Linked DNA regions of Homo sapiens. The protein of the gene in region 1 interacts with the protein of each later gene in a pairwise test. Each region holds a gene or a part of one and is shown in the gene's direction. Other genes may lie near its edges.

Region 1 (7,024 bases):
TCGTCTCAAAAACAAAAAAACAAACAAAGAAGGTTGAATACAAATACAAAGCAAAAGTTTACATCATACAGACTTGGTAGATATGTTTTTAAAAGTAAAAATAAAAGACTGAAATTGGCCAGAATTTATTTCTAGGGACCCAGCTGTCAGTGCAGACTCCGTGTAATACCTAGACTTGGTGTGAGGCATGACTGAGTATGGTTCAGTTTCCTCCTCTAATCCCGTAAGATATTAGTTCTCAAGAAAAGAGCCCAGGGAATTTTAATTTTTACTTTGGATCCCGAGCAGGCATATTTCTCTTTGGCCTAGCAGAATTTCTTTCTAGATCTGGATCTGTTCTTTGTAATGATTTTTGATAAACAATATTCAGGATGTAAAATGCTTAGCTATCATTTGACTGACTCCATCATCAGGCTTTCTCCTACATGTTCATTTTATCAACCCTATAAGGTAGGAACTAGCCTCTCCATTTTACAGATGAGAAACCTGAGGTGGTTCCAAAGAATTGGGTAATTTGCCCAAGGTTCCTGTTTGCTTGGATTGGATTGCAGCCTGACTCTTCCCACCACTCTGTGTGCTGCCTCAGATACTATAGGATATGAGTTCTTCCTAGAGTTCTTCTGACTTTGAGAGTAGCTACAGCTGGTTTCCCTGAAGGCAGGAGTTCCTAACCTTTTGGGGTTGTGGATCCCTTTGAGAATCTGGTGAAAGCTATGAAGACCTTCCAGAAGGATGCACATACTATACATGCCATTTTGCATACAGTCTCTGGGTATATCGACCTGTCAATGTCCATTGACCACCCCCACCCCCCAGTTAAGAATTACCCACTTCTGGCTGGGCGTGGTGGCTCAAGCCTGTAATCCCAGCACTTTGGGAGGCCGAGGCTGGTGGATCACCTGAGGTTAGGAGTTCAAGACCAGCCTGGCCAACATGGTGAAACCCCTTCTCTACTAAAAATACGAAAATTAGCCGGACATGGTGGCATGTGCATGTAATCTCAGCTACTTGGGAGGCTGAGGCAGGAGAATGGCTTGAACCCGGGAAGTGGAGGTTGCAGTGAGCCAAGATCATGCTACTGCACTTCAGCCTGGGCGACAGAGTGAGACTCTGTCTCACCAAAAAAAAAAAAAAATTACCCACTTCTTGCCAAAATGCAGCTTCAAGAAATGTAGGAATGTTCTAGGACAGTGAGACTAAAACAGAAGCCTCTGTTAGCCATCAAAGGCACTGACATCTTACTGTCTGCTGTAAATGGCACTCCACTGGGCGGCATGCAGTATATTTGACTCACACATCAACTTTAGCCCTTAACCCCAGTGGGAAAACCACTGTAAAGATCTGGATACCAGGGGCCACATGTGTGCTGATGCCTGTGGTTTGGTGGGGCTACAACAGGAAATTCCTGCTTTGGAAAGACAGAAAGCAGATAGCCAAATTCTCTCTACCACATTTTGGAAACTATGTGTTTGAGTCTGATCAAGCATGATTTAGATTCAAATTCAGAAACCATGTATTAGCCTTAGTTATGTGCCAGGCAGTCCTGCACTGGATCCGTTCATGTGAATGGCTCTGTTGAGCCCTCACCAAGACAAATACATCTATAAATGCCTGTTGGGGGTTCAATATTTAAACAAAATGGCATATACTCTTCAGGCAAACAGGAACTCTTCAGAATTCTCTGCTGTCTATTTGCGTAGGGAATTGACAGTTCTCACTTAGGCAAAATGACTTGTGTGCCAAGATATAGACTTTGGTTTCTTGAGCGTAGCTCAGTGTTCCCCAACTTCCATATTCATCAAAATTATGCATACGGTTGAACACTCAAAGCTAGACATAGTGTGATGTAAAGGATTTTTTCAGGCTATCTTCTGGGTTGTTGAGGTGGGGCATAATGCATGTGAAATTGTTTCTTGGAATGAGAGCCTAACAAAGGGGAGGACTGTGTTATATTCCGACCACTGAGCTCTGTATTGCTTGACACTGCCTTTCAACCTCTGAGAAATAAAAGTTCACATACCTTAAGTCGATGGTCATGAGAGACCAGGTCAGGGATGGAGTGTGAATGTTGTGAGCTCATTACTGTTACTGCAAAAGAGCCAAAAGTAGTGTTTCAGTATGAACTATTTTTATACACACACAAATATCTTTTCTTCTTTAAACTAGAATCAGGTGCTCTGGTTTTCATTTTATAAATGGAAGGGAAACCCTAAGGAGAGTCTGGTTTTATGTTTTAGCTTTATTTTTTAAAAATATATGGTACCTCCTTGAGAATCTGATGAAAGCAGACATCCTGCTGCCTCTTCCAGATGTGCCTAAGCCTGTGTACACACTCACACACACACGTGCACACTCACAGAGACGCACGTTCACATTCAGTTACCGAGAACTCATGGACCTGTCTGACCTCTGAAGCCAGTCTGCCTGGGTTGAAATCAAGTTCCACCACCTACTGGCTCTGTGGCTTTGGCCATATTATATAAAGTGTACCTCAGTTTCTCAATCTGTAAAATAGTGCTGGTGATCCTCCCTAATAAGATGGATTGCAGGATTAGCAGAGATAATAAAGTACTTAGGAAGTTTTGGCACATAGTAAATTCAATCAGTGTTAGCTATTTTTTTATTATTTCATTGGTACTTTATGTTATCCAAGTACTCTTTATTTGCAAATTTGTAAATTTAATCACATTAAATATTAATTTTTAAATACTAAACATTCAATTTTCATCATTTTTTAGTAAAGTAGACCTTATTAAGACATTTAAACAGGTCCTACATTATAAACATAATTTTTGCTGTGAATGGAATAGAGCCACTGAAATGTACAGTGACCCTTTAGCCAGTAAGCTCATGCAAGTTTTAGCTCTAAGAAAAAAAAAACACTACTCTGAGACATTTACCAATATATTTGACCATGTAACTTTTTGTTTCCTGGGTCATCTTAATGAAAGAATGCTCCAACTTGAGAAATTCTGCTCTGTGCCAAAAGTTGGCTTTTTTTCTTTCCTTTTAAAAGGACTTATTAATTGTTCTTTATGTTTGCAATATGTTTATAGCTTAGGAATTATTTTATGGAGTATCAGAAAAGGTTATAGATTTACAAACAAACCTTAAGCTTGTGGAGCAAAAAATAAGGCATTTGTTATGTTCTGTACTTCTTGTGATTCTTGACTATATGAGTGCAAATGGCTTATTGAGTTATTGTTGAGAAATATAAAAAGCTAACTGATAACTTCTCCGTTAAAATTTTACAAAAACTTAAACACTTCTTTCAGGCTGCAGAAGATGTCAATGTTACTTTCGAAGATCAACAAAAGATAAACAAATTTGCACGGAATACAAGTAGAATCACAGAGCTGAAGGAAGAAATAGAAGTAAAAAAGGTATTGAAAATAATTATTAGAAGAATAAAATTTTTTTATACTATAGCTACTAAAACTGAACTCAGTTAACAAGTGAATATATATTTCTCTGGGCTGTTTGTTGCAGATGAATGACGCGATCCACTCTAGTTAAGCAGAAAGTCATTTTTTTTTTAAGGGATATGCGATAACTTACAGAGTTGTTGAGGAGCTTGAGTCTAGACCGAGGTTCCAGGAACAAGTCTCGGAGAACTTGGCTGGCGGTGGAACAGCTGTTGCCTCCACTGATCCCAGAGTCAGCTGTCTTCCCAATGAGGAAGCCACCCTTGCAGACTTAGGAACACCAAGCTGCTGCTGCCAGTGCCACCTACCCCAGTAAATCTGGGGCCTGTGTCCAGCCGTCCCCCTTGAGTTGAAATCCAGCTCAAATGCATTTGATTGGTGGAATTGAAGTTATTATCACTTATGCATGCTGGCAGAACTTTCATTACCCGCATGATTTACTTACACCCTATCAGCAAGCAAGGCTGAGAAATGTAGGCTGGTTTTTTTGGTTTTGTTTTTGTAGGAAGGCAGAATTCACAAAGTCAAAAATTGTTAAAATAGAAGAAATTTTGAGTGACCATGTGCCTGCTGTCCACCACAGGGCGCTTATTGTCCAGAGGACAAAGCTTTAGGTAGCTCTAAGTGCTTGCTTGTGAAATGTCTTCTAAAAAGTTACAAATTAAGGTCTTATTCTAATGTGGTAATAATACCTTTGTGAGAGGGTCCCTCAGAGAGTTGCTGTCCCCAAATTACAATTGGCCTTTAGCTTCTATCAGAGAACTTTGAGTACATTTTCTTTGCCATTTTGCATTTATAGAAACAACTCCAAAACCTAGAAGATGCTTGTGATGACATCATGCTTGCAGATGATGATTGCTTAATGATACCTTATCAAATTGGTGATGTCTTCATTAGCCATTCTCAAGAAGAAACGCAAGAAATGTTAGAAGAAGCAAAGGTATGTTAAAGGTTAATTCTGAAATTAGAATTTATATCACTATAAAGAACATGTAATTATAGATGTAGGGAAATAGTAGATGCTAGCTATAGCTAATATTTACTGCCTTGTTATGTCCCAGGCATGCTCCGAATGCTTTGCCAGCAGGATTTTGTTGAATCATAACGATGACCTGTTATCCCAATTTAGGGACAAAGAATAGAGGCTTAGAGAGGTTATGGGATTTATTCAAAGTGACACATAGACAGTGGTCTTCTGACTCCAGAACCTTGCTCAAAACTAAAAGTATTTAGAAGGTATAGCATATATTGAAGCAGAAAAGAAAAATCCCCTGTAATTCTGCTATGCAGAGGTAACCATTCATAGTGAACATTTTCCTGTATTTCTTTTATGTTCTCTCTGCCTCTCTCCGTGTAGTTTGCTTCCCAGTTGGGACAATTAATGTTCCAGGAGGAGCATTTTTGCTGGTTTCATTGAATGTTTGTTTGTCCAGCAGATACTCATTGGAAGCCTGCTCTGAGCCTGGCACACAGGCCTTTAAAAACATCGTTTTTGAAGACTGTTTAATATCATGTTGATGGTTATCAATTGGGGTCACGGGTCTTATTGTTAGCATTAATTTGTTTCCAATATTTTGCTGTACTAATGTTACTGTGAGCATTCTTCTACATAAATCTTTGTTCACATTTAGAAAATTGTTTTGAGGAAATAATTAGAGAAATATAATTACTGGGTCAGTCAGCATATGAGTTCTCTGATAATATCTGAGACATTTGATACATGGTATGAAATTTTCAGTTCACATGCCTTCTTACTATTTGGGAGGGACAGCCACGTTGTTTGTCTATGAGAAGCAGATGGCAATTAAACCTTTCCTAATGCTTTTGCTAATTAACCTGATTGCTTAAAATGATAGTCTCTCTTCAAATGTCATAAAAAGCAAAACTTCGTATGAATGAAACCCACATTTAGTAAGTCTTCAGAAGAACTATCACTCCTGGGTCTTTCCATGCATAAATCTTATATGTCTCCCTTATGTTTAAATCTTTTCTTCTTGGTCAAATTTTGTGATTTTTGTTCTTTTTATTTGTTTAACCATTTAAAAAACATTTTTATTGGAAGTATTCCCAGATAGCTTATGGTTTTTGTGGCTATTGTGAATCCCCTGCCCCATACACAGATAGCTACTGAACTTTTATTTTATTTTATTTATTTATTTATTTATTTATTTTTTGAGATGGAGTCTTGCCCTGTCGCCCAGGCTGGAGTGCAATGGCGCAATCTCGGCTCACTGCAACGTCTGCCTCCTGGGTTCAAACAATTCTCCTGCCTCAGCCTCCCGAGTAGCTGGGATTACAGGCGCCCACCACCACGCCCAGCTAATTTTTGTACTTTTGGTAGAGACAGGGTTTCACCATGTTGGGCAGACTGGTCTCGAACTCCTGACCTCGTGCTCGTGATCCACCCGCCTCAGCCTCCCAAAGTGCTGGGATTACAGGCGTGAGCCACCACACCCGGCTGAACCTTTCTTTTTTTACTCATTCTAGAATTCTAGAATGAATGGAGTGCTTACTCTGTATCAGGTTCTGCCATGTACTAGGGATAATTGGGGACAACAAAACCTGCCTGGCCCCTGCCTGCATGGAGCATATAGTCTAGATGGAAAGAAAAAAAAGTAAACAAAACTGATAATGAGTAGAAAGTGATATGAGGATAGAGGTGGCTTTAAGAACACAGGAAGAGGAATCTACACTAGTCTGGACATCAAGGGTCAGGGAAGGGCTCCCAGGGAAAGTGATGGGATAACAGCTGAGGAATAAGTGGCTATTAGCCAGAAAGGGGCGGCGGGGGGCGGGGGGTTCTAGTCGTGAGAAGCAACATGTGTGAACGGCCATAGGATGACGGTGGTGCAAACATAGACCTGCAAGAAGATGTATTTGCTGGAGATTGGGAGCACCTGAAATTGTGGCCACATCTTGGAGAACTCCAGTCAGTTGAGTTGAAGAAATTGTACTTTGTCTTAGCAGGGGTCAGCAAACTTTCTGTGAAGGGCCAGAAGTAAATACGTTAGGTTTTGTGGGCTGCACAGCCTCTGCCATAATTACTATGAAAGCAAGATGAGTGAATCTGCGTGGCTGTCTTCCAATAAAACTTGACAAAAACAAGCTTCAGGCTAGATTGGGCCTGTGGGCTATAGTTTGCCCACTCCCGTCCCAGAGCAAAGAGGAGCCTTCAGAGATTTTTGGAAAAGAGAGAGATGATTGGACTTGCGATATTAAAATGACTTTCTAGTGTCTTATTTTACTTATTAACCAGGTTTTCTCGGTATAGAAATTTAGAATTTATCCCTTTCTAGTAGCCATATGTCTTATTTTTGTTTCTTGTTTTGTAACAGTGATTCTCAAACTTAGCATGCGTGAGAATCACAGTCACCACAGGGCTTGTTAAAAATCCAGGTTGCTGGGCCCGACCCAAAGACGATCTTTCAGGTGGGCTGAGGTAGGGCCCCAGAATGTGTATTTCTAACAAGTTCCCAGGTGATTTTGTCCCTGACACTGGTCTCGGGGCCACCGTTTGAGAACCATTGGCTAGATTTCTAAAACGGCAACACTGTCAGTATTAGATATTCTTTGGTTTCTAATGTTAGTGGGTATTTGGT
Region 2 (7,189 bases), on another chromosome or scaffold:
TTGCTTCGGACACTGCAGCACCCAATGGCGCCCAGAACCCGCCCCCTGCCGCGGGCAGTGCAGCCCGGGATAGCGCCCCCAATCCGCTCCCTGCCGTACACAGTGTAGCCACGAATAGTGCCCCCAACCAGACCCCTGCTGGGGGCAGTAATGCCCTGATATGGCACCCAAACCGCCCCCCAACTGCGGGAAGTGCAACCCCGGATAGTGCCCCAACCTGCTCCCCACTGGGAGCAGCAACCCAGGGAGACGCCCCAACTCACTCCCTGCCTCCGGCAGTACAGCCACAGATAGCGCACCCAACCCACCCCCTGCGCGGGCAAGGTAGCCCCCGATAGCGCACCCAACCCGCCCCGCCGGAACCAATGTGGCCCCAGGTAGCACACCCACCAGCTCCCTGGCACGCAGTACAGACCTCTGATAGCACCCAACCCGCCCCCTCCCAAAACGGGCAGTGGATACGTCCCTCAATAGCGCCCCCAACCAGCCTCCCACCCCCTCTACACGGGCAGTCTGGCCCCCAGTAGCACTCCCAATAAATCCTGCTATCTCTGTCTCAGTGTAGGCCCCAGAAAGCGCCCTCAACACCCCCCTCCCTGCTGCCAACAGTGTAGCACCCTGTAATGAGCCTAACCCGTCCCCCACCACAGCACTGCAGCCCCAGATAGTGCTGCCAACCTGCTCCCTGCTGTGGGCAGTGCAGCTATGGATAATGCCCCCAGCCAGCTTCTAGACGCAGGCAATGATGCCCTGGATATAACACGTCCCGCCCACCGCAGGCAGAGTAGCACCCGATAGCGCCCCCAACCCGTGCCTGACAAGGGCAATGCAACACCCGATAGTTCTTCCAACTCGCCCGCCGGCCACGGCCACTGCATCCCCAGATAGTGCCCCCAGAACTCCCCACTGCCGCTAGCAGTACAGCTTGGGATAGTGCTCCAACCCACCCCCAGCCACGGGCAGCGCACACCCGATAGCACCCCCAACCCACTCCCCTCTGTGGGCAGTGAGGCCCCAGATACCACATCCAACCAGCCTCCTAACACGGGCAGTAACGCCCTGGATAGGGCCTCCAACCCACCCCACCACGCCACGCCACAGGCAGTACGGCCTGGGATGGCGAACTTTTCCCACCACCATTTTACCATTCTGGCTGCGCTCTAGTCTCCCTGGCCCGCACCAACGGCAGCAGCGAGGTGAGCCACGGCAGGCTCCAGCCTCCACTGTGCTAATGAAGTTGCTCCTCCTCCTTTTCCTCTAAGCTTCCAGACTCCAGTGTGCTCAGGAAGTGACTCGTTTTCTTTTTCCTCTAAGCCAGTACTAACCAGCTACACAAGCTGACGCAGGAGAGCTTGGAATGACAAAACTCCCCCCACTTGGCATCATTTATATATGAGAATTTATGCAAATGAAGTTCCTGGGCTACATGTTCTGATTGGATGAGGAAAACCTCTAGGCCTACTCTGATTGGACTTTGTTATCATGTTCTGATTGGTTGTCCTAAGACTTGCTCTCATCCAATCAGAACATGCAAATAAAGCCCAATCAGAGTAGATCTAGAGGTTTTTCTTCTCATCCAATCAGAATATGTAGTCCAAGAACCTCATTTGCATAACCTCGGTAAGGGGAAGTCTCAGTTCCAGGCTCTTCTAGGCTATGTTCTCTGTCTCCACACCTTCCTCTCAGACAGCAGCTGGAGCCCCAGAACCTGGGAGCCTCACAGAGAAAGTCCTGATGTGGGACCTGGTTTTCCACCCGAGACCCAGGATCCAATAAAGAAGTGTTTCCATAAATGATGCATCCTCCAAAGAAGGCCAGTGACTTTCTGTGCCAAGTACCTGACAGAATTGCCATTTCCTAGAGCTGCCAGGCAGCCCTAGGTGCACAGGTCACCTGTGCATGTGTCAGAGACCAAATCCCATCAATATTGAGGCCTTGGTTAAGACAGGTACTTGCTTTTAGTCGTGAAAAGATGCCTGGCTTTGGCAGGAGAATCGCTTGAACCTGGGAGGCAGAGGTTGCAGTGAGCCAAGATTGTGCCACTACACTCCAGCCTGGTGACACAGCGAGACTTTGTCTCAAAAAAAAAAAAAAAAAAAGAAAGAAAAGAAAAGATGGCTGGCTTCAACACTGAGAAAACCAACTCTCCTTGAGCAAATGCTTTGCATATTCTCATAGAAATAAGGGAACACCTATTACCCTCCTTGCACTGCTTCCTGCACAGCTGGGATACTACCTTTCACAAGCATCCTGAGCCACCTGCTGGCCTTTTGTGTGTGTTTCCTTCCTGGCTTCCTCCCATTTTTTTTTCCATCTCTGAACCTGCTGTAAGGTGAAGAATTGAGGCGGGCCCCAAATGTAAGACCTCATGAATTTGACGATGCAACAGTGTCCTGGACAGCCTGGCTCTCAGGGCTGGGGAGCTGGGCAGAGAGAAAAGAGGGCATTCCAGGGGCCAGGGAGCTCCAGGCCCAGAGTAGGATTTCAAGGCTAAAGAAACAGAGGCTGTGGGTGGGTAGAGGGTCTTGACTAGGGTAGGGACAGAGGGTGCGTCTTAAGGCTCAGCTAGGGACAGCTTCATCCAGGAAGTAGTCAGCAATTGGGGGCCAAGCTGCAAGGAGGAAGAGGTGGGGAGAGAGAATGGAGAGAGAGGTGTTCAGTGATCAAATGCCTGGCCTGGCCTGTTTCCTCAGGAGACACCCCTGGGAGTCTGGGAGCCTCTCCCCCGGGCTGCTATCCAACAGGGTGCAAGTAATCCCCCCTTACACACACTAAGAACCCAGGGTGAGTGTCAAATTATATGTTAGCTAAGAAATGAAGAGAGGGAGCAGGATTTCTGGTTGACGGTGAGGATATTTATTAAGGGTTTACTGGTACAAGGAGAGGGGCTGGATGATTTGGGGTGGGAGGGGATCTCTGTTCTGGGATCCTGCAGCTCCAGGCCCCCATGGGTGGGGTGAGGGTCAGGGACCTAAGAACATTCTTCAGGGGCCACTGTCTTCTCCACAGTGCTCTCTTGTGTGTGACCTTACAGCTGTAGCTGCTGCAGGACCTCCACTGGTCGGGTGTCAGGCTCAGGTCGCTTCTGGCTGTGTGCTTGTTGCTCTGTTTGGAGGTCTTGGTGACTTCCGTACCCTGGGTGACAGGGGTGCTGTTTGCCTTCCAGGCCACCGTCACAGCTCCCGGGTAGAAGCCACTCATGAGACACAGCAGTGTGGCCTTTTGGCTTGGAGCTCCTCAGAGGAGGACGGGAACAGAGTGACCAAGGGGGTGGCCTTGGGCTGGCCTGTGGGTGGGCGAGCGGCAGGAGGTCAGCATCCTGTTGTGTACCTGGGAGCCCCCTGACCTCAGTGTATGAAGAGGGGTCAGGCCCCCTCAGTGCCAGTGTAGGACCCCTCAGACATGGTCCACAGTGTCTCAGAAGGGTGTGACATGAGGTTCCTAAAACAACTCTCTGTCATTCAGGGAACCTCCGAGCCTGTCCCCTGCCCACCAGTGGTGGCAGTTAATTTGGTATTCATTTCCAAGGCTGGAGAAGGATGTAATTTTTTTTCTTTTCTTTTCTTTTGGTGAGACAGGGTCTTACTGTGTTGTCCAGGTTGGAGTGACCTGGCGTGGTCTCTGCTCACTGCTAATTTTTGTATTGTTTGTAGAGATGAGGTCTTCCTGTGTTGTCCAGACTCGTCTCAAATTCCTGGGCTCAAGGGATCTTCCTGCCTTGGCCTCGCAAAGTGCTGGGATTACAGATGTGAGCTACTGCATCCAGCCCCCTTTTTTTTTTTTGAGATGGTGTCTCACTCTGTTGCCCAGGCCGGAGTGCAATGGCACAATCTTGGCTCAGTGCAACTTCTGCCTCCCAGGTTCAAGCGATTCTCCTGCCAAAGCCTCCCAAGTATCTGGGATTACAGGCGTGTGCCACCACGCCTGGCTAATTCTTTTGTATTTTCAGTAGAGATGGGGTTTCACCCATCAGGCTGGTCTCGAACTTTTGATGACCTCAGATGATCCACCCACCTTGGCCTCCCGAAGTGCTGGGATTACAGGCATGAGCCATCGTGCCCAGCCTCTCAGCTCCTAATTCTTATGTTCATCAATCAGTCTCTTGCTGGGGTTCCCCTAGGAGGTGGTGAAATGACCCCAGCTCGCTGTTCCTCACATGGGTGCTGCCACGTCACTGGCTCAGGCTCAGCTGCTGGGTCACCAGGAGAATGGACCCTTCCTCCACCTCAGCTCAGAGCACAGTGATGATTCGTGACTTTCCCAATAGAACTTCAAATCTCTGAGGACGGGGGGTGGGGGGATGTGCTTGAGTGTTTGTACTCATGGTCTTGTTCTCGGAGTGACAAAGCTGGAACACAATACCTCTATGCATGAAAAGGTTGTCACTTGTCACAACTAACAGGCTTTCACCTCAAGGAAATTTTCTTCCCTTGTGTACTTTTCCCCTGGCAGTGGACATGGCTGCACTCTTCCAAGAAGCAAGCAGCTGTCCCGTCTGCTCAGACTATCTGGAAAAACCAATGTCCCTGGAGTGTGGATGCACCGTCTGCCTCAAGTGCATCAATTCGCTGCAGAAGGAGCCCCATGGGGAGGATCTGCTTTGCTGTTGCTGTTCCATGGTCTCTCAGAGGAACAAAATCAGGCCCAATCGGCAGCTAGAGAGGCTGGTTTCCCACATCAAGGAACTGGAGCCCAAGCTGAAGAAGATTCTACAGATGAACCCAAGGATGCGGAAGTTCCAAGGTAAGGAATCTGTATACCCTGCCCCCTTCCCAAGACCAGACCAGGAAAAATCATCTGTGCAGTTGGCCCCTCATTCCACATGGGGATTAGCTGCTGTCTGGCACCTAAAATTGAGATGCTTCATCATCACATTCTCAGCCCTGACAACACATAGAATCACCTGGTGATGTCAAAAACAAAAACAAACAAAAACCCGATGTCTATGTCATGGGTTAGACAAGGGATTCTCTAAACTTAGTGTGCTCAGATTACCTGGGGATCTTGTTAAAATGCAGATGCTGAACTGGGAAGTCTCAGGATTGATCCCGCTGGCTTGGGGACTTTGCTGAGTAGCAAAAACATAGAGCAACTGAATTTGAATTTCTCTCTAGCAAAGGTTCCCATGAATCTGACATTAAGATGGGCCTGGTATTTCTAATGCACAGTGAATATTGGCACCCATTGTACCAAACAACCTCACCCCAGGGTTGAGAAGAGTTGGGAATGGAGCACCTATGGTGTTTGTTTCTGTGAGTGGGGAGAGTTGCAGATATTGGTCTCCTCATCCATGCGCCATGGGCTCCAACAGTGGTCCTGGCTACAGAAAATACTATCACTCTCCATAACTCTGGGGAAAAGGGACATTTAAATGAAAAGGTTATGGTCAGCCTGGGCAAAGAATTACACCTATAAATGGTGGTGGGCCCCTATAATGTCCCTGACACTGGTAGCTTCTGCCCTGACACCCATGATCTCTACTCATCCATCTACCCATACCTGACTGTCTCTCTGCTGAACTATGGAGGACAGAGATTCACCCTGTCCAAGTCATGTTTGGAACCCTCTTCCTCCTTCCTTGTCCATGTCCATTCCCTAATTCACCATTAAATAGCAATCAATCCCTAGTCTTGACTAGGGTAGTCTTACTGTGATCTATAAAATCTATATTAGTGATCATATCAGTTTTTTGACTTGAAGGATAATATATTTTGTAGATTTTTTTTTTTCAGAATGTTCTGGACAATTAATTTTCTCTAGGCCAGATCACACTGCCTCCTCCATGAGAATTGGCGGCTTCACCTGTCAGTCACATACCCAATGCCTTAAATTATTGACCTTTGTATTTTCTGCCCTTATTCTCTACAATCAGTCAGTTATGACAGACAACTTTCAAATACCTTTCTCTTGGCTCCAAAATTTACCATTGTTTTGCTTAAGGTCTCACCTTCCATGTAGGATAGAAAACATTCTTTCATCTAAAAGGTCCCCCTCCTCCACCTGGCCTTAGAGCCTCCTAATGTCCAGGACCAGCATCTCTGTCATCACATTGTCAGCTGCAGAGATACCCTATCTGCTGTCAGAACTGTGCACAATTAATTTGTTTACAAACATGGAAAACAAAAGCCTGGAATCATGCTCTATATACTGAATTGGAGCAATAAAATGTGGAAGCAGAAACATATTTAATATTGACCACTTGCATTGTCTTAATTATCATTTATTTGTTCACACATCAAGGTGGTAGAAAGGGGGGCATGGTGTCTGCCTTCAGAGACCCTCCACTCTAAATGAAGAAAAGTTCAGTGAAGCAAACACGTGACGTAAAGTAAAATAAGAATTGCTACTGTGAATAAGAGTCACGTATTGCCACAAAGCATACCTATGAAAATTTGAAATAGGGAAGTTTCCTCATGAAAAGTTTTGATTTTGGAGGAAGAAACAGAATTAAAGAAACTAAAGTCAGGAGATATTTGGGCCTTTGAAGTAGAAGAGAGGCATGGGGTTGGCTTCTGTCCACTTGCTGAGCAACTTGTTTTCCTTTTCACAGTGGATATGACCTTGGATGCCGACACAGCCAACAACTTCCTCCTCATTTCTGACGACCTCAGGAGCGTCCGAAGTGGGCTCATCACACAGAATCGGCAAGACCTTGCCGAGAGATTTGACGTGTCCGTTTGCATCCTGGGCTCCCCTCGCTTTACCTGTGGCCGCCACTACTGGGAGGTGGACGTGGGAACAAGCACAGAATGGGACCTGGGAGTCTGCAGAGAATCTGTTCACTGCAAAGGGAAGATCCAGCTGACCACAGAGCTTGGATTCTGGACTGTGAGTTTGAGGGATGGAAGCCGCCTCTCTGCCAGCACGGTGCCGCTGACTTTCCTCTTAGTAGACCGCAAGTTACAGCGAGTGGGGATTTTTCTGGATATGGGCATGCAGAACGTTTCCTTTTTTGATGCTGAAAGTGGTTCCCATGTCTATACATTCAGGAGCGTCTCTGCTGAGGAGCCACTGCGCCCATTTTTGGCTCCTTCAATTCCACCTAATGGTGATCAAGGTGTCTTGAGCATCTGTCCTTTGATGAACTCAGGCACTACTGATGCTCCAGTCCGTCCTGGGGAGGCCAAATAAGCCGCCACTGCAAAAAAAAACAGGGTCAGAAAATTACTTGGGTGGGTAGACTTAGGAA

Evidence for each region. Proteins that work in one complex are often made in the same cells at the same time.
Region 2: the proteins of PFDN4 (region 1) and RFPL3 interact in binary tests that used the Homo sapiens proteins (3 or more experiments, as listed by UniProt).

The regions. Positions count from the first base shown.
Region 1 is NC_000020.11:54,211,076-54,218,099, forward strand, and holds part of PFDN4 (prefoldin subunit 4), read left to right. Parts: intron 1-3,275; coding exon 3,276-3,383; intron 3,384-4,222; coding exon of another isoform or gene 4,223-4,224; coding exon 4,225-4,365; intron 4,366-7,024. UniProt on the Homo sapiens protein: Binds specifically to cytosolic chaperonin (c-CPN) and transfers target proteins to it. Binds to nascent polypeptide chain and promotes folding in an environment in which there are many competing pathways for nonnative proteins.
Region 2 is NC_000022.11:32,353,702-32,360,890, forward strand, and holds the start of RFPL3 (ret finger protein-like 3), read left to right. Parts: upstream 1-4,165; 5' UTR 4,166-4,370; coding exon 4,371-4,743; intron 4,744-6,204; exon of another isoform or gene 6,205-6,550; coding exon 6,551-7,131; 3' UTR 7,132-7,189.